Regions from separate parts of the Homo sapiens genome. Here region 2 is linked to region 1. Evidence: fine-mapped expression QTL. A gene starts in region 1. The other region holds a variant in brackets. All regions are shown on one strand. Distances are between the middles of the regions. Region 1 holds the start of KLF3-AS1 (KLF3 antisense RNA 1). Region 2 has its middle 24 kb from the start of LINC02278.

Region 1 (8,843 bases):
ATAGGCTTCCCACACCTAAACCAGACTGGCCTGCTGTCAGCAAGGAAAAAGCGCAAAGCAGCTACCACAAAGATCACACTTGAGATTGTCATGTAGGATTTACTGAACACCTGACCATGTTCCAGGCACTGTGCTAGTGTTAGGAATTTTAAAAAGACCCAGGCATCGCTTTTACTATCTCACTCTGTTGCTTAAAAGCACTCAGGGGGGGTAACTCCCTCTTCCCTCCTCTTCACCATTTCAAAGCCCCTGGACTGATGGAGGTATAGTTCACTGCCACTTGCCTCCCTATAGCCCCCACTCACCTCTTCAGCTCAGAATGACTCCTCCCTCCTCGCAACTCATAAACCACATTTATTCCTTTGACAAATATTCATTGAACATCTGGGCCCTGGGAATACATTTTTGCTGAAAAGACAAGGTCCCTGCCCTCATAGAGTTTCCAGTCTAGTGCCACAGAGAGATCATTAAATAGCCAACTACAAGAACGGAAAGTGTTACAAGAGGGGAAATAGGAGGATCCACTCCCATGACCCAAACATCTCCCATCACGCCCCACTAGATGTTACCAGAGCACCTCAACTTGTCCAAAGGTGCAGTGAGAGAATACATATTTGGAGAAAATGTCATTTAAGTCAAGACTGAAACGATGTATAGAATTTAGGGAAATGGGAGTAGAGGTCAGGTTGAGAAGACAAGGCTTTTCTACCTAGAAAAATGAGCATGTGCAAAGGGCCAGAGGTGGGAAGAGAGAGTTGGAAGAAAGGAACGGAAAGAAGTTCAGCGTTGCTGGAAAAGAGTAGGAAGAGAGAAGAGGAAGAAGTGTCTGTAATGACAGGCAGAGGCCAGGCCAGCAGGGGTGGAAAGCTTAGGACTTCATCCTATGGGAAGCCATTGAAGGGACTGACACGATCAGGCTTGCATTTTGGAAAGGGCACTCTTACTCCCGTGCTCCAATGCCTTTTTCATGCTTCAGCCCATACTACAAACAGGATGACAGGATGACCAACAAGACATGGTGGCAACAGGCTGGGCCAGCATAGTGGCCAGAGAGTGGGTAGTGACCAAGGAGGTCCAGGACTCAGTGAAACATGGGCTATGCCCTGCTAGCGAGAAGAAAGGCTTAGGTGCTTCTGTTGGGGTTTTGTTTTTTTTTTGTTTTGTTTTGGTTTTTTTTTTTTTTTTGACAGAGTCTCACTCTGTTCAGTGGTGACATGATCTCAGCTCACTACAACCTCCACCTCTTGAATTCAAGCAATCACCCTGTCTCAGCCTCCCTACATAGCTAGGATTACAGGCGTGCGCCGCCATGCCTAATTTTTGTAATTTCCGTAGAGACGATGTTTCGCCAACTTGGCCAGACTGGTCTCGAACTCCTGGCCTCAAGTGATCCACCCAACTCGGCCTCCCAAAGTGCTGGGATTACAGGCGTGAGCGACCGCGCCCCACCCTGTTGGGCACTTTGAAGAATGATGGTGTCCTTCACTGAGCTACCCAGCACTAGATAGATTCATTTCCGACAAGTTGCATTTGAGCAGCTTCCCACAGGGCACCGAACACAGTGTTCACTAATTAACTGTTTAAAATGGCTTTTCTTCTCCTTTGCCGCCTGCCCCTTCCATATCAAAACCACTCCCTTCTTATCTTGGGTCACACTTTTCTCCGACAGGCCTATTTCGCTCTTCCCCTTTGCGTCCACACCCACATGAACAAGGTAAAAAACATGGTTTATGTGCTTCAAGTTCTCGTCACTGTGTCCCTGGAGAAAAAAACGTACTTTTTTGAGCACCTACTATGAGCCAGTTTCACCAGCCATTCCTAGCACGGTGTTCCGCTAATGCAAACCTTAAGGCAGCCAATCAGCCATTTAATGATGTCAGTGATCAATAAATGGCAATTAGTAATTGACACGAATCCAACTCTTTTTTTTTCTGGAATGTCTTTTATTCATTATGAAGAAAAAAAAAACTCACACCCTTTACATTTTAAAGATGAAGCTTATGGGACAGCACGACGTCCCATGAGCCGGCGTCGGTTCTGGGTATCCTCCACGTGGCCTTTCCTGGACTTGCGTTATTTAAAATATGCGATTTCACTACTTGAGGTTACCGAGTACTAATTTTACAATACTGTGTAGCTACATGAAGCGGCTCGAAATATACTATTATCACTCCGTTTTAAGCAGCACGATGTCTGGATGAAGCATCAAAGCGAGATGGGTCAACTTAAAGGGCCTTTAAAACATCTTGAAGCAATAATAAGCCATACACTGAAGCAGGGGCGGTTTTAAACATTACACAGAACTTAAAACAATCGAACGAATTCGTCCTTTGTTCTTTTTATTACATTAATTATTACATTAATACTGTTTAAAAAGAAACTCAAAAGGCATTAAACTTAGGTACCAATCTACACAAAGTCCTCGAAGGGGCCTGGCTTGGACCGAACGCGCTTTTGTGCCGCCCCGCTCGCTCGCAGCACCCTGAAGGCCACTGAGCTTAGGGCGCTAGGTCCCTAGAAGCGACTTGAAATGAGGGGGTCGCCAGGCCAGGCCCTCGCTCTGCAGGGGAGGATCCGACCAAAGTTTGCCAAGTTTCCAGGCAAGCCCAACTGCGCAAATGCCGCTTTTTAGCTCCAGCGGCAGGCCTGGCCCGTGGGAGTTTTGCCCCAGGGGTCTCCGGGCCTTCAAAGAAAAGTCCCACGAGGTGGGGGGCGCCGCCTGGGCCGCCGGCCAGGGGGACCCGTCGCCCCAGGGCACAAAGAAAGAGCGCGCCTACAGGGTGTCCCCTGACCCCGGCGACTCGGGGCCAGGGAGGCTCGGCGCGCCCCAGCGGCCGCTCTTCCCCTCCCGAACCCGCCCGGCCCACTCGCTCCTGCACCGCGGCCGCCTCGGCTCGGCTTTTCTCTTGCAGTGAGCTGAGTGCGCTCAGCCGAGGAGGGGCCGCGCCGCGCCGCGCCGGCCGCGGGGCCCAGCCCTTCCCGCCGCGCCCGGGGCCGCCCTTCCCGCTGGAGCCGGCTGATCGATGGCCCTGGCAGCCCGCGCCCCCCGCCTCGGCTCGCCCGCGAGCCCGGCTGTGTGTTTTGGAAGCAGCGCAGCGGGCCGCAGCCGTGTGACGCCCGGAGCGGGCAGCGCCGCCCTTCCTTCCCCCCGGGCTCGGGCGGCGGCGCGGCGGCTGGGCCGGGCGGGAGGGCTGGCGGGGCGCGGACTCCGGGGAGGAGGGCGCGGGGAGGGGACGCGGGCGGGGACGCGGGCGGGGGGCGGAGGCCGCGCCGCGCACGCCCAGCCCCACGGCCGCGCCGCGCCTCGTGGGACAGGTTGGGCCGGCGGGGCGGCGCCCGGCTCCGGGGAATAATGAGTGTCTGTCAGGCCGTCCCCGGGTGACTGGGCGGGGCGGGGCGGAGGCGGCGCGGGAGGCGGGGGTGGCGGGGGAAGGGCGCAGGGCGGGGTGCGTGTTTGCGCGAGTGACTCGGCCGACCCCTCCGGCGGCTGCCTCCACCCAAGTGGGTGGGGACCCGCCCAGCCCGGGCGGCCGCGGCGGCTCCCTCTCCCCTCCCTGACCCTCCCACCCCGGGTCCCAGCCTCTACTTACCCCGCCAGCCCCGGGAGGCTCGCAGAGCGAGCGGCGCCGGCGTCATGTGACTGCCCGGAGTTGGTGCCAGGAGCCAGAGGGGAGCCAGGAGCGGAGCCGCGCGGAGCCGGGGCCCGAGCCGGAGCGCAGCGAGAGCGCCCGCCGCACGCGCGCCCGTCCCCGTCCCCTGCGGCCGCCAACGCCGCCCGGACTGGAGCCCTGACATTGCTGCGCTCGGGGGGCTCCAGGCAGCCCGTATCGGGGCCTTTATTTCTCGTCGGCGGCGCCCTGCACCGCGCCTCGCAAAGTAAGTCCCGTCTCCCTCACCTCTGCTCCGCACCCTGGTCCCTGCCGCCCCCCTCCTCGGCCAGTCTGGTTTCATTTTTTCTCCTGGAGGGGGCCGCGGGGAATGGGTCGGGGGTGCAGCGCTGGTGTTGGGGGGGGCGCCTGCGGGCTTGGGAAAGTGTGGCGGCTACACTTAGCCGGGGTGGGGGCGGAGAGCAAGCAAGGAGGAGGGGGTCACGGGTTCGCGGTGAAAAGTGAGGGGTTGAGGCGAGGCACCGTGCGGACCCCGGGTGCGGGGGAGCGGGGCTGGCAGCGCCCGCCGCCGTCCCGGGCAGGGCGCGGGCGGGGGCTCACCTGTGTGGTCCCCGGCCTCCTCCCGCCCGCTCACGATTCCCTCCAAAGCCCCAGAAATCTCCGTGCTCTCCGCGTGTGGCAACGTTGTTTGGAGAAAGGTAGCGCCGCGGCCGCGCGCTCCTGCTCCTCCCCCTCCCGGTGCCCCCCCACCACCACCACAACCCAGGCTCCCGCGTCCTTCCCCTCCCCTCCCTCCGCCCGCGCCCCCCGCCGCCCCCCTCCCAGGACACGGCGCGCGGCCGCTCGCCCGCCACAGCAAACTTGGAGCAGTCTCCCGGCCCTCTGGAAAGAAACTTAGGGCAATTGGGATTGGAGGCAGCATCCCATTCTCGGTTCTGGAGCCCAGGAGCTGCCAGGGCGTCTGGATCCTCCGGGGCAGGAGAAATGAGCTGGTCGGGTTTGGAGAGTCTTCCTGGGGGCATGGAGAGAACCTGCCGCAGTGCCTGGAGCAAGGATTGCAGCGTGGCTGAAGGCGGAAGACGCCTTAGGCAACTGCCTGCAGCCGAGCCTGATGGGGACCCAGGGACAGATCCCTGGATCAGGACCCATGGGACCTACCTAACATTTCCAAGTGGCTTTCTTAGAGATGGCAGATGAGATCTGGAATTGTCATATTCATTTTTTTGGGCAGATAGCTACTGACAAGGAGAAGCACTTTTCTGGTTTAAATTTTATAGCAGTATACAATAATACTAGAAGAATGTGAATGAGACTTATTTTTAATAAGTCAAGTTAAACGGAAATTGGAAATTGCTCACCTTCTTGTATTTCACTAAAATAAACATTTTACACTTAACCACTGAATTTCTTACTCAGAATTTATGTTTCCATTAATATCACCCAAGACATTTTAAATATATTGATTATATTCTCACAAGAGTCTGGTATATGGGAAAAAGTATGAAGTGGTATTCTGACAAGTACCTGAAATGTGCCAGCAAAATCAAGTGGGGAATAGGCCAGTTGTTCATTATAGGTTTTTCCACACAGCAGTTTTGTGCTATCCTTTTCTGTACGAATTTGAGGAGCATTTTTATAAGAGAAATTCATCTGGATGATCTGCCTCACCCTAGGGAAGAAGACTTGCTTTTAGGGGAAAAAACAATCTGCTAGCATTAATATCTACAAATTTTTTGGAGTTAGTAATAGTGTTTAAGGAAAGTGTCCACGAGTGATTTCTTCTGGTTTGAAAAGAGGTATGTTAGTTGACCTTAGGCTGTTAATAGAAACCTGAAATTAGATGTTCGATTAAATTAAACTCCCTAGAGAAACTGGTATCTTCATTTCTGCAGTCAGTGGGCTTTGCTGCAGAACTATTTATTAGAAGAAAAAAACCTAATGTACTATCGGTAAGTTCAATGATGATACATTGTAAAGAACATTTAGCTTGCATGAAAGGGAATGCAAGTACAAAAATCTCAACATGGGAATAACAAAGAAAAGTAACTGCTTAGACCACAAAACCTTGTCAGGTACAAAACGACAACAGAGTTTTGCAGAAAGCTATTGTTTTATTCACTGCAAAGTTTCTAAATTAAAACCCAATCTTCTTGTTGCTATGGGCACAGTGATGCTCTTTTTTTCCTTTTTTTTTCTTTTTTTTTTTCCTTACCTGTACTTAGTCTGCACACACCACATTCTTAAATCTCTGATAACGTAAGCTTGAGTTAAACAGTCCTGGCTAACAAAGTAAAGAGAAATAATGGGAAAGGAACTGTGAATGGATTTTACTATCTTAAAAATAACCCAAAGGGAAAATAGACATTTTAGAATGACTTCTAGAAATTAGTACTCTGGTGTACAGATTGCATAATAATTTTTAGATAAATGTCAGGAACAGAATCACATTCTTAAAAGGCGAATTTCTATAAACGTGTGTATATGTTGAACAGATGAGCAGCTCTGCAAAGATGTGTATAACTGCATTTGAAAAAGACAGTGAAAATTTTGGGTTACTGTAGATGTCCCACAGTCTGTCTTGGAATTTAGTTCTGTGACTAAAGGAGGCTTACAGTTGCTCCAATTTTGGTTCTGTGGGGTACCCCAATTGTAATCTGAATTCCTAACAGCAGTGCTCTATCTTTTTTCCTCTTGATGCACTGAGGCTGAACCATAATCATTACCCTAACTCGGAATTTGATCTGAGCTAGGGACTAGCCATTGGAATGGGGCAGAAAGGGACAAAAGAAATCAGGAGGGAGGCTAGTGTTCATTAGGAAGGTCTCTGCTGCTTGAATATGATAAAATCACATTTCACTTATGATGTTTACTGTATGTGGCAGCTCTTATTTGTAAATAGGGCAGGTCCCCTGTATAAAGCTGGTGTTATTATTCACACCCGTAGAACAAACACCTCCACCCCCCTGTTGTTGTCTTAAAAAACTCCAGCTGCTCATGAATATAGGGTCAGGGAGGGCCGGCTAAATGTTTCTCTGTGCTTTCTCTCCAGCACAGCCAGCAGAGCTGTTTCCTGTTCTTTGTTTCAAGGCTGGGGTTTGCGTCATACATTCCAAGTGGCATATGTGTGCTCTTTCCTGTTTCAGGCTGTTTTCTGGTAGATCAGTAGCCCAGACCAGGCTGAGGTCCCTGCCCCTAAACTCCGTATCCCCACCCATGGAGTTATCATGTCTCTACACACTTGATATTGCTTAAGACGCCTGTGTTATGTCATAATGAGAAGTCAGTTAACCTTTTTACGTACACCCTTTGCTCCACTGCATTTGTCTGGGTGAATAAATGCTTTTACCTTTTTAAATTTTTTATTGCTAGATTGTGATTTGGGGAAACGTGGGTCCATCCTGGCAAAGAAACCTAAAGGAGTTTTGTTTGTATTTGTTTGTAATTCTTGTGTTGAAGTGGTTAGGGCGTTTGTTTTAAGATAGGCATTTTGCCCTGAAGCTGTCAATTTTGGATCAGGATTAACACCTTACAGTTTAGAAGACCTAGCATTATCTGAAAGATGTGGCCCACCCTCGTTCACGTTTAACCCAGGCTGCTCCAGGTGGCTTCCGTGGATGGAGAATTTAAGCAATGTTGGCAGCCTGGCTTTAGTTTAAGTCTTGCTTATGTTTGGAAGGAGAAATCTTTAGAAAAATCATTGAAGCAAAGCCTAAGACATTGAGAAAATCCCGGGATTATTTCTTTTTAAGGACAAAGATTTAAATATCAGGATAATGTTTTAAGGACAAAGATTTCACTGTGCAATATTCTACACCTCATTTCCAACCCGTTTTTAAGAATTAAAAAGCTCAAAGGAGAACTGGCATTAACAAATTCATTTAATGCTAGATTGTTTGGAAAATTTTAATCTTCTATTTTGAAAACAAGAAGAATGCTCTTCTCATTTTTGTTTTACAATAATATTTTTCATTTTTTAAAAATATTCTATCAGTTGTGGGTTAATGAATTTCTAGGATAACTATTTAAGACCTGCCTTAATATTAGTTTTCTGTTGGTTCTTGAGAAACTAAGATTTAAGGAAATATTTGCTTGAAAAAGAAAAGTTTTGGAAAGTGCTTTTGTAAACTTACTTGGGGATTTTTTTTTTTTAATCAAAAGGAATCATCTACAGCATCTCTGTGGAATTAATTTAAAGAGTTGCTGAAGCAGCAAATCAGGCTCTCTTCTCCCCAAAATTGATGATAATGGTGCGTTTTAAATGTCACATTCCACCACATTCTTTATGTATAAATGGAAAATATAAAATATGATATTAAGAGAGTTATTAGTATCAAATAGTTGGCTACTGATAACCTTCTATGAAAAAAGCTGGGAGTTTTAGAAGTCCCAATAACTTCTTTCTCCTTTGGGAAAAGCAGCTGGAAATACTTAGCTGACCTGTAGGACAAGAGACTTTTAAGCTTAAAATTCATAAGTAACTCCAATCGAAGCAGGTTTTTTTGTTTGTTTTGGTTCCAAAGTTGTTAACAATCTAACTAGGTTTGGTAAACAGAGTCTTTATTTGGCTTTCCCCAAATTCTTTCTTCTCTCTTTTGCAGGGAGATGAAGTGGTTAATAGAGATAATTAGGGTCTAATATATTCTATCAGAAAAAAATTCTGCAAGCTTCTAAATGCTAAGCTGAATAGTTGGGGAAAATTATCCTATCTTATAGTTGCTATGATTACCAGAAAGATGGGAACAAGAGTTTTAATTTCTTAACCATATAAATCATGATTCCTAATTTAATTTCATTGTGTCTCCATCGCCCCTTGAGATACTTGCCTTCTTAATATTTTCAAATCAACATTTTTGCTATAAAACGACAGATTTCTTAGGCAGCATTTCTTGTTCTCTGTTTTCACACCCAGTTGAGTTTAAGAAAAATAAAATACACACAACCTCATTCTTTAAGGTACTAGGAATTACAATTACATTATTCTGGAACTTGGATTCTTTCTGAAGTGCATCATTTATCATTGGTTCTAGCTTTTTAAAAAAGCAAATCCCTAGAATCTTAAAACAATTGATATCTAGTTTGCTAGTATGTGATATTCTAGTCAGAATTCCTCTTGGGAGTGAGTTGGAAGAGGGTTATGGTGGTCGCTAGCATTCTCATTTTCAAGACCACTCTGTTCCTTTCTTAGACCATGTTTCTCATCTTAAGCAGTCATGCCCGAGCTGGAGACAGGAAACC
Region 2 (8,843 bases), 77 kb before region 1:
AATCAAGTAAGGAATACGCAGCTTAGAAATTGTCTCACAGGTAGGGACATGCAACCTGCAATCAAATGAATTATAAAATTTTAGAGCAGAAAGCCTTAGAAAATGCCTAGTTCAACTTCCCCACTCCCTAGTTCAATGCAGTCATCTTCTTTGTAACATTGATTCCATTCAGCAATCATTTATGGGGTATCTCTTATGTGCAAGTGACTATGCAGCAGGGAATTCAGGAAGAGTAATGAACATCCCTGCCTTCAAGGAGATTACCATTTGATAGTGAAGGTAAAAGACTTACATAAATAAGATCCCAGTGCAAACTGTTAAGGAGACCTAAATATTAGACCTAAATACTAGGATTTCAAGGGAAAAGAGATCTCTCCTAGTGTACATAGGAAAGAGGTAGAATGGGAAAAGAGGCATCCATAAAGATGGATATGGGCTGGGCATGGTGGCTCACTCCTGTAATCCTAGCACTTTGGGTGTCCAGGGCAGGTGCTTCACCTGAGGTCAGGAGTTCAAGACCAGTCTGACCAAGATGGTGAAACCCCATCTCTATAAAAATACAAAAATTAGCTGCCCATGGGGGCACACGTCTGTGGCCCCAGCTACTTGAGAGGCTGAGGTGGGAGAATCGCTTAGATCCAGGAGGCAGAGGTTGCAATGAGTTGAGATGGGATAGATATGCATTTATCACATGATAGTGAAGAGGGAGCAGAAAGTTCCAGATTGAGGAATTATGAGCATAGTATGGAGATAGAAAACAATAAACCAGTGTGTCAGGAGTATCAAATGCTGATAATAACGTTCATCATTTATTATATAAGCATTCTGAATTTTAACCTTCACACTTTTCCTCTCCTGTCTTCTTCATGTAAGTAAAAAGCCTGTCCCTGGCTGGGTGAAGTGGCTCACACCTGTAATCCCAGTACTTTGGGAGGCCGAAGCAGGTGGATCATGAGGTCAAGAGATCAAGACCATCCTGGCCAACATGGTAAAACCCCATCTCTACTAAAAATACAAAAATTAGCTGGATGTGGTAGTGCATACCTGTAGTCCCAGCTACTCAGGAGGCTGAGGCAGGAGAATCGCTTGAATCTGGGAGGCAGAAGTTGCAGTGAGCTGAGATGGCGCCGCTGCACTCCAACCTGTCGACAGAGAGAGACTCCATCACACACACACAAAAAAAAGCCTGTCCTTCACCTAGCTGCTCCAGCCCAAACCTAGGAGGCATCCTTGATTTCCTCCCTTCCCTCAAACCCCATATCCAAACCATTATAAAGCCCAGTCAGCTCTAACCACCAAGATATGGCTCACCAACTCTATCCCCACCAGCTGAGTGTAATCCATCTTCTTCCATAGTATCTTCCTGACTTCGCTTTCTTCCTCCACTCTTAACCTCTTCCAGTGTAGTCTTCACACAGCAGCCTAAGTGAGCTTCATAAAATGTAAATCAGGTCCTGTCACCCCTCCATTGGAGGGGAGCCTCTAATGGTTTCCTGTCACACTGGGAGTAAAATCCAAACTCCAAGGGCTTGTAGTATCTAACTTCTGCATCGTCTGGTCTCACTCATTATGACTTTCTCACTTGCCCACTGTGCCTTGGTCACACTGACCTTTAATTCTACTTTAATTCTCCGAGCTCTTCCCCTCTTTAAGGACTTCGTAGCCTCCATCCCCCCGTCTGGAACGCAGACCCATGGCTTGTCCTCTCACTTCATTCAGACATCTTCTCAAATGTCATCTTCCCAGAGATGCCTTCCCTGACCATCTAAGAGATCCGCCGTCTCCATCGTTCCCTGTATCCTGCTTCATCTTTTATTTTTCTAATCTCCCAAGGCTCGGTCATCCATATCCTGCTTCATCTTCTTCATAGCGCTTTTCATTACCTGAAATCATACTTTATATTTGTTTGTTCACTTACTTCTTATCTGCATTAGTATTAGTTTCCTGTTGCGGCTGCAAAAAATTATCACAAACATAGTGGCTTAAACAACACAAATGTATTGTCTTAACACTTCTGGAGATCAGAAGTCTGAAATGGGTCTTAATGGGTCTCACTAAAGCTAAGATTTCAGTAGGACTATGTTCCTTCTTGGGGCTTTAGGGGAAAATTCATTTCCTTCCCTTTTCAGCTTTTTTTTTTTTTTTTTTTTTTGAAATGGAGTCTTGCTCTGTCAGCCAGACTGGAGTGCAGTGGCATGATCTCAGCTGACTGCAACCTCCACCTCCCAGGTTCAAGTAATTCTTCTGTTTCAGCCTCCTGAGTAGCTGGGACTACAGGTGCATGCCACCACATCCAGCTAGTTTTTTTGTGTTTTTGGTAGACACAGGTTTTCACCATATTAGTCAGGCTGGTCTCGAACTCCTGACCTCAGGTGATCCACCGACCTCAGCCTCCCGAAGTACTGGGATTACAGGCACGAGCCACCACGTGCAGCCTCTTTTCCAATCTCATAGGAAAAGATTCTGCATTCCTTGGCTTGGGTCCCCCTTCCATCCTCAAAGTCAGCAGCAGCCGGTTGAGTCCTCCTCACATGGCATCACTCTGACACTCTCCTGCCTCCCTCTTCCTTCTTTTAAGGACCCTTGTGATTCCACTGGGCCCACCTGGATAATCCAGGCTGCTGTCTCTATTGCAAAATCAGCTGATGAGCAACCTTAATTCCATCTGCAACCTTAACTCCCCTTTGCCATGTAACCTACCATGTTCATAGGTTTTGGAGGCTAGAACATGGACATCTTTTTGGGGTGGCATTATTCTACCTCCCACCCCACAAACACTAGAAGGTAAGTTTCATGAGGGGCAGAACTGGGCCTCCTTCATCATTCTCCGATGCCTGGCACATAGCAATGTATATTACTCCATATACGTTAGTTAACTAAATTCTTGAATGCAACCTACTGTTCCAAGAGCTTTACATGTATTATCCCAATTCCATCATCACAACTACTCTAAGAAGTAAGAACAATTTGTATCCTCATTTACATTTGAGGAAATAGAAGCACAGAGAAATTAAGTAACTTGTCTAAGGTCACATAATTAGCAAGTGCCAGAGCCAGGGCACAAACAGAAGCACACAAACTCTAAGGCCTGTGCTCTTGACCACTGTGCTACATCCTCTTCATCAGGGAGTCATGGAAAAGATAAGGTAGGGCCCCAGTAGAACCTTCCTTGAATGAACTTTGGTCTAAATGGTAAGCACCAGCTGGGAGAATGCCATTCTCTCTCACACATGCCTATTCAGTCTGTGTCTAGATACTGTTGATGGAGACCAACTCACTATTTGAGGAGGAAGCTTACTTCAATCTTTCAGCCAGGTCTGCTTTTGGTCCAGCTAACCACAGCCACCCACAGATTCCTGAGGATACTTTCAAGCTAAATGCAAACTCATTTTTCCTGAGCAGGCCTTCTACACAAAATCTTTCTCTGCTTTCCTACCCTGGTAAACTGGGCTGGGCCTTGAAGTAACTGTGGGACCCCACCACCACCTTCACTTCCATACTAGATCAGAGCCAGCCTCAGCAATCAACTTATGTGGGCTTTCTCCTGGATTCCACTCTGCTTTCACTCAAAGACCAAAAACCTCTACTCTACACACAATACCCCTTGCTCCAAAACTCAGCACCCAGAATGCCTCAGAGGAGGGAGAGTAAGTGAGGGACTTTCATAACCATTTCCCTTCATTCCTCCCCCAAATTTCTAGCTCCCAGGCAAGGAGAGGGGGTGGATAAGGCTTTGTTCTAAAAGAACCCCATTGAGTATTTGATGAATATCAGGGCCCCTCCCTCAGGAGGGTGGAAAGGAGAATGGAGAGTGGGTGGCCAACAGACAGTATTTCTCTTTTTCTGGCCAATAATCCAGAAAATGGATAATTCCCGCAAACATAATCAAGTTAGTATTCCATGTGTAATTTGGCAGTAGACTTGCTAGTCAACCAATGACTTAAATTGCATGTGGGATTTTTAAAGGAAAATTTACTTAGTCATTTTAATAAGAATATTCCTTGGAGAAAAATTTTTCAAAGAAAACCAATAAGGCTAAGGTCAAAATATTATCTCCAGGTCTGTGTCATATAAGCTGTCCAGAGTACATTATCTCCCCTTTGATCCAGCTACCTTACCCACACATCCACACATTCTCTCTCTCTCTCTCTCTCTCTCTTTCTCTGTCCCCCCTCTCTTTCTCTCTGTCTGCTATACACACAAATATACACACTCAACCATCTCAACCATACACATGCATCCATTCATATAGACACTCATGCACTTCCTCCTGGTATCTCCCAGTTACCCAGGAATTCTCCTGGCCCTTCTCCTGGATGTTGTCCTGCTCTTCATGTGCAGACACTTGCATAATGGCAGCAATGGAGTTGCTGAGGGCCAACCAAGTAGACTGTGGGTATCAGTCCCTATGCATAAGTTGGTTTCTCAGCTCCACCACTTAATATCTATGTGACTTCAGGCAAATTAACTTCTCTGAGCCTCTGTTTCTGTGTCTGAAATTGGCAAAGTAATACCTATCTCATGCTAAATATTGAGCAACAACTATGCAACCAGCATTGTTC[T/A]GGTGCTGGGGGTACAGCAATAAAAAGGATGAAATTCCTGCTCTTGGGAAGCTTATCTTCTAATGGGGAGGAAATGGGTCTCTACCAAAAAAAGATGATTTCAGATAAAAACTATTAAAAATAGAACACAATAATATGATAGAAATTTAAGGGGAAGATGTGGTAGGCAGCTTCAAAGATGGCCACTAATGATCCTCGCCTCCTGATATTCATCCCCTTGTGTGTTCCTCTTCATGTTGAGTGGGCTAACCCAGGTAACCAATAAGATGTAGCCACCATTGGCATCTATATCTACTTTGTGTTTAAAAATCAACTGGTAATTCTGAAACACTGTAGAATGGATAAAAATTATTTTGTGATCATAACTCTTTGTTGAACTAGAGTATTTTTGCAGCATTCCTTGTCATCAGAAACATGGTTAAAATTTAAAACTAGAAGCAGCAGAATAAGGCAATGGGAGGGTGTTATGTCCAAGGACAGGTCATGAAAGACATTGCAGCTACCAAATCACTCTCTTGGGTCACTCATTCTTGGGAAACGAACAGCCACGTTGAGAGAACACTCAAGTAATTTAACAGACAGTCCTAGGGTGAGGTGGTGATGAATGAAGCCTCTTGCCCATAGCCAGCACCAAGCTTGCCAATGGCCAGAGCCAACCTATCATGTTGAAAGTGATCGTCCAACCCTGGTCAAGGCTTCCGAAGACTGTAGCCTGCAGATTCATAAGAGACGTCAAGCCAGAACCACCCAGCCAAGTTGCTTCACAATCCCTGGCCCATAGAAACTATGAGATGATACATTTTATTATTGTTTTAAGCCATGAAGAGTTGAAGTAATTTGTTACACAGCAATAGATAATGTATACAGGGAGCTTTGGATTGGATGAGGGAAGGCTTCAGTAAGCTTCATTAAACTTGGGTTATTGTGAGGATTAACTAAAAAAGTAAAAAAAGTCCTTAGCAAAGGGTCAGGTTTTTAGTCCATGTGTAGTAAACCTCAGCTATTGTAATTTTTATGCTTTGTGGTAAGATTAATCTTCATCCAACACCCTCATATTGCAGATGAGGACCTTGGGACCTAGGAACTTCAGACATTTGCCCATATCCTACAAAGCAAGTATTGGCCAAGCTAAGCTGGAGGCTAGGTCTTCTAGGTTCTCCTAGGCCCTAAGCCACACTTCTTTCTTATTCTACACTCTGTTGCTTCCCTCCTTGCATGAAAAGCTGCTGGAACAAGAATCTGACAAATCTGCACAGAGATTCAGACTCCGCTGAGTCTGCTCCATGCCCGTAGACATGGAGACAGAGCAAGGGACAGAGAGAAGATGGATGTGGTATATGTGGGTCCCGCGACTCCACAGTTGCCCTCAAGGACTTCTTCAGAAGCCAATAGCCATGGCCAGGAGAACATTTCTGGATTTCCATGGAATGCTCTCTTCCTTGCTAATTGCTGTTAGGAGCTCAACAGCTGTTTTTAATATTTTGATGCTAATCTCCTGAAGGGCCATGGAGAGAAGGAAAGAGAGAAAGGCAGATTGTCTGCAAAGCCTAGGATCCCATCGGTACCTCAGCTCCAAAGAGTTTAGCACAGGCTGGTTCCCATGTGCTGCTGTCCTCATTCTTCCCTGGGGTCAAGGATGCAGCCAGCTTTCTTCTCTTGGTGGCCACCACACCCATTTTCTCCCTGGGCGTTCTGTCCTTCCCTCCACCCCTACGACCAGCTGTGGAGTTGTACGTGACCCATGCCCCTCCCTCCTTCCTTACATCCTCTCAAAGATGAGCTCACAGGCTCTGCTTGTTATAAGAGATTCATTGCTAGTCACTATAGAGAAACAGACAACAGACAATGAAAATAACTGAAGTGGGAAAAATTGCAAAACAGTAGAATCTTTTGATGTGACCATGCCACTCCCTTACTTAAAACCTCTGGGTTACTCTGTATCCCTACAGAGCAAATACAGAGATCTTCAAAGAGGCACAGAAAGTTCTTTGAGATCTTGCCTGAGTTCAAATCCTTACTCTGTGCTTGACAGCTGTGTGCCCATGAGCAAGTTATTTAATCTCTTTGTGCCTCATTTGCTTCTAATGTAAAAAGGTAATGATAATATAGGTTTGCTGTTAGAATTATTTAAATGAGTTAACATATAGAAAACCTTAGATCCACATCTGGCATATATCAAGTGTTCAATAAATGGCATCTATCCCAATGATGATGATGATGATGACACCCCTGCAAACTTACCCATTACTTCCTGCTTGAAAAGCCCTCACATATGTATCATGCTATTCATCACCTCCATGTTTTCTTGTTCTGTTTTCCTGTACCCAGACAGCCTTCACTTTCCCTCAAGCCTGGTTCACATCCAGGTCTATAGAGATGTGAAGTTTGCTACTCAAGCCAGCCTTCTTTGGAAAGCATTCAATGCCCATCCCATCATCACCACAGGCTGTCTCTGGGACCCCTCGTCTGTGCTCCTGTAGCATCCTATGTGTATCTCTATCATTATCTAAGAATATGTGTGTGTGTTTGAATGATCTATTAGCTGTGTCACAACCTACCCCAATACCTACTGGGTTCAGATGACAACCATTTTATTTGTTCACAATTCTATGGATCAAGAATTTAGGCAAGGCTTGGCTGGTCAGTTCTTCTGCCCCACAAGGCATTGGCTTAGGTTCATTCACTCAGCTGCATTCAGCTAGAGTCTAGGTCCATGAAGTGTTCACTCACATGCCCAGTGCCTCAGGTTCTTCTCACACTCTCACTCCATGTGGCTAGCTTGGGCTTCCTCACAGCATGGTGGCCTCCTTACAAGTCAGGCTCCTTACAGGGTGACAAATGCTCCTTACAAGTAGCATTTTAGGAGTGACAGAAGCAGAAGCCGTAGATCTCTTAAGTCCCAACCTCAGAAGTTGCACTTTTCTTCCACCACATTCTATTGGTCAAAGCTAGTGAGAGAGAGGGTCAGTCCAAATTCGAGGGAAGGAGTAGAGAGAATGTGTGGCCATCTTGAAGCCACCACCACAGGTTCATCTCTTGTTAAGATTCTGAGCTCCTTGAAGGCAAGGACAGAATTTATTAGTCTTGGTATCCCCAGCACCTAACTTGGACTAGTGCCTGGTATGGAGTAGGTGCTTAACAAGTTGTTGAACTGAACTCCCACACAAACACAGGAAAGCTCTAGAGGAGGATGAGACATTCTAACAAAACGCCCGAGGAAGCTCCTCTGGGAGCTGCCAAAGCCTCCCCGCCCACAACCTCTGCTTCTTGTCAAATTCATCTTCAGTTCATTCCTGGCACAAGGTGTGTGAGCAATGCCAAAGTCACTAATTAAGTACCGGTGTCTCTAACTGGCTTTAACATGGATAAAGGACAGAAGCGAAAGAAATGAGTGTAGTTGGAATGTTCTACAGGCCTATCCAAAGAACAGATAAAATGTGAAGTGCATTTGTATAAACATTTCCAACTCTAGCACTGTGCAGGTCAAGAGCATCCCCAACGAAGAGGACTTTCAGGTCTCCTTATTTGGGAAAACCCTCCCCCAGCCTCATGCAGTAAAAGCCAGTGGCTAGACCGTGAGACTCACTCCTGAATTCCCTAAAGACAGTCCTGTTGTTTTTGCCTATGGCATGGTAGCAGCCCGAGATTGCTGCAAGAATGCAAACCTCCCAAGACCAGGCGCCAAGGGCAGAGCCATGTGAGGTGAGGGCGTGAGGGTGAGTCAGCTCAGACCACCAGCAAGTGTCTGCAGAGAGAATGTCCAGGCCTTGCCTAAGCCAGCATTGGCATAGGCACTTAATTTTTAATGAGCAAACCATTGGGAGAAAAACAAATACAACTTTAAACTGAGTATGCAGGTTTGCTTCTTTGTTCATCTTAGTGTCCACATGTCCTTGGCAATAAGATGGATTGGGTTCATTCCTAACCTAGGATCTCAAACAGCTAGAAGCACCAGGGGCAAACAACTGCAGACAGAGCCCACCTGACACCAACAGGCACGGGGAAGCAGCTGTCCTTCCCTTGCTGTCACTGGGGACAACTTGACAGAGTCAAGCCAGACTGAAGAGAATCACTTACACAAGTTAGAAGTGTTCCAGATGGATGAAAAAGTAACCCATTTAGCAACTTTCTGGAATCCTGAGAGTGAAATGTATTGCCCAAGTCCCCATGTTGTCTTCTTATGGGGCAACCAAGGGCGTAGAAGATTCTGCAGGGAGAGGAAAAGTGCAAACCCCTTTCCTTCACACTGCAAGCTGGCAGAATCCTGGCAGCGGTGACACA

The links.
Region 2: its variant is fine-mapped to the expression of KLF3-AS1 in tibial artery (GTEx, PIP 0.96).

The regions. Positions count from the first base shown.
Region 1 is chr4:38,660,586-38,669,428 of GRCh38, forward strand. KLF3-AS1 (KLF3 antisense RNA 1) reads right to left here and starts at 4,308. Exons shown (of 16, transcript NR_171644.1): 1 at 4,209-4,308. KLF3 (KLF transcription factor 3) reads left to right here and starts at 3,614. Exons shown (of 6, transcript NM_016531.6): 1 at 3,614-3,876. RefSeq lists enhancers at 1,482-1,803, 5,838-6,688, 6,689-7,538, 6,728-6,777, silencers at 2,515-3,034, 3,065-3,334, 3,345-3,944, 4,005-4,354 and a promoter at 3,074-3,876.
Region 2 is chr4:38,583,965-38,592,807 of GRCh38, forward strand. No RefSeq gene overlaps it. Among named protein-coding and RNA genes, the nearest start is that of LINC02278, 24 kb to the left of the region's middle. The variant T/A (reference allele first, on the strand shown) is at 4,563.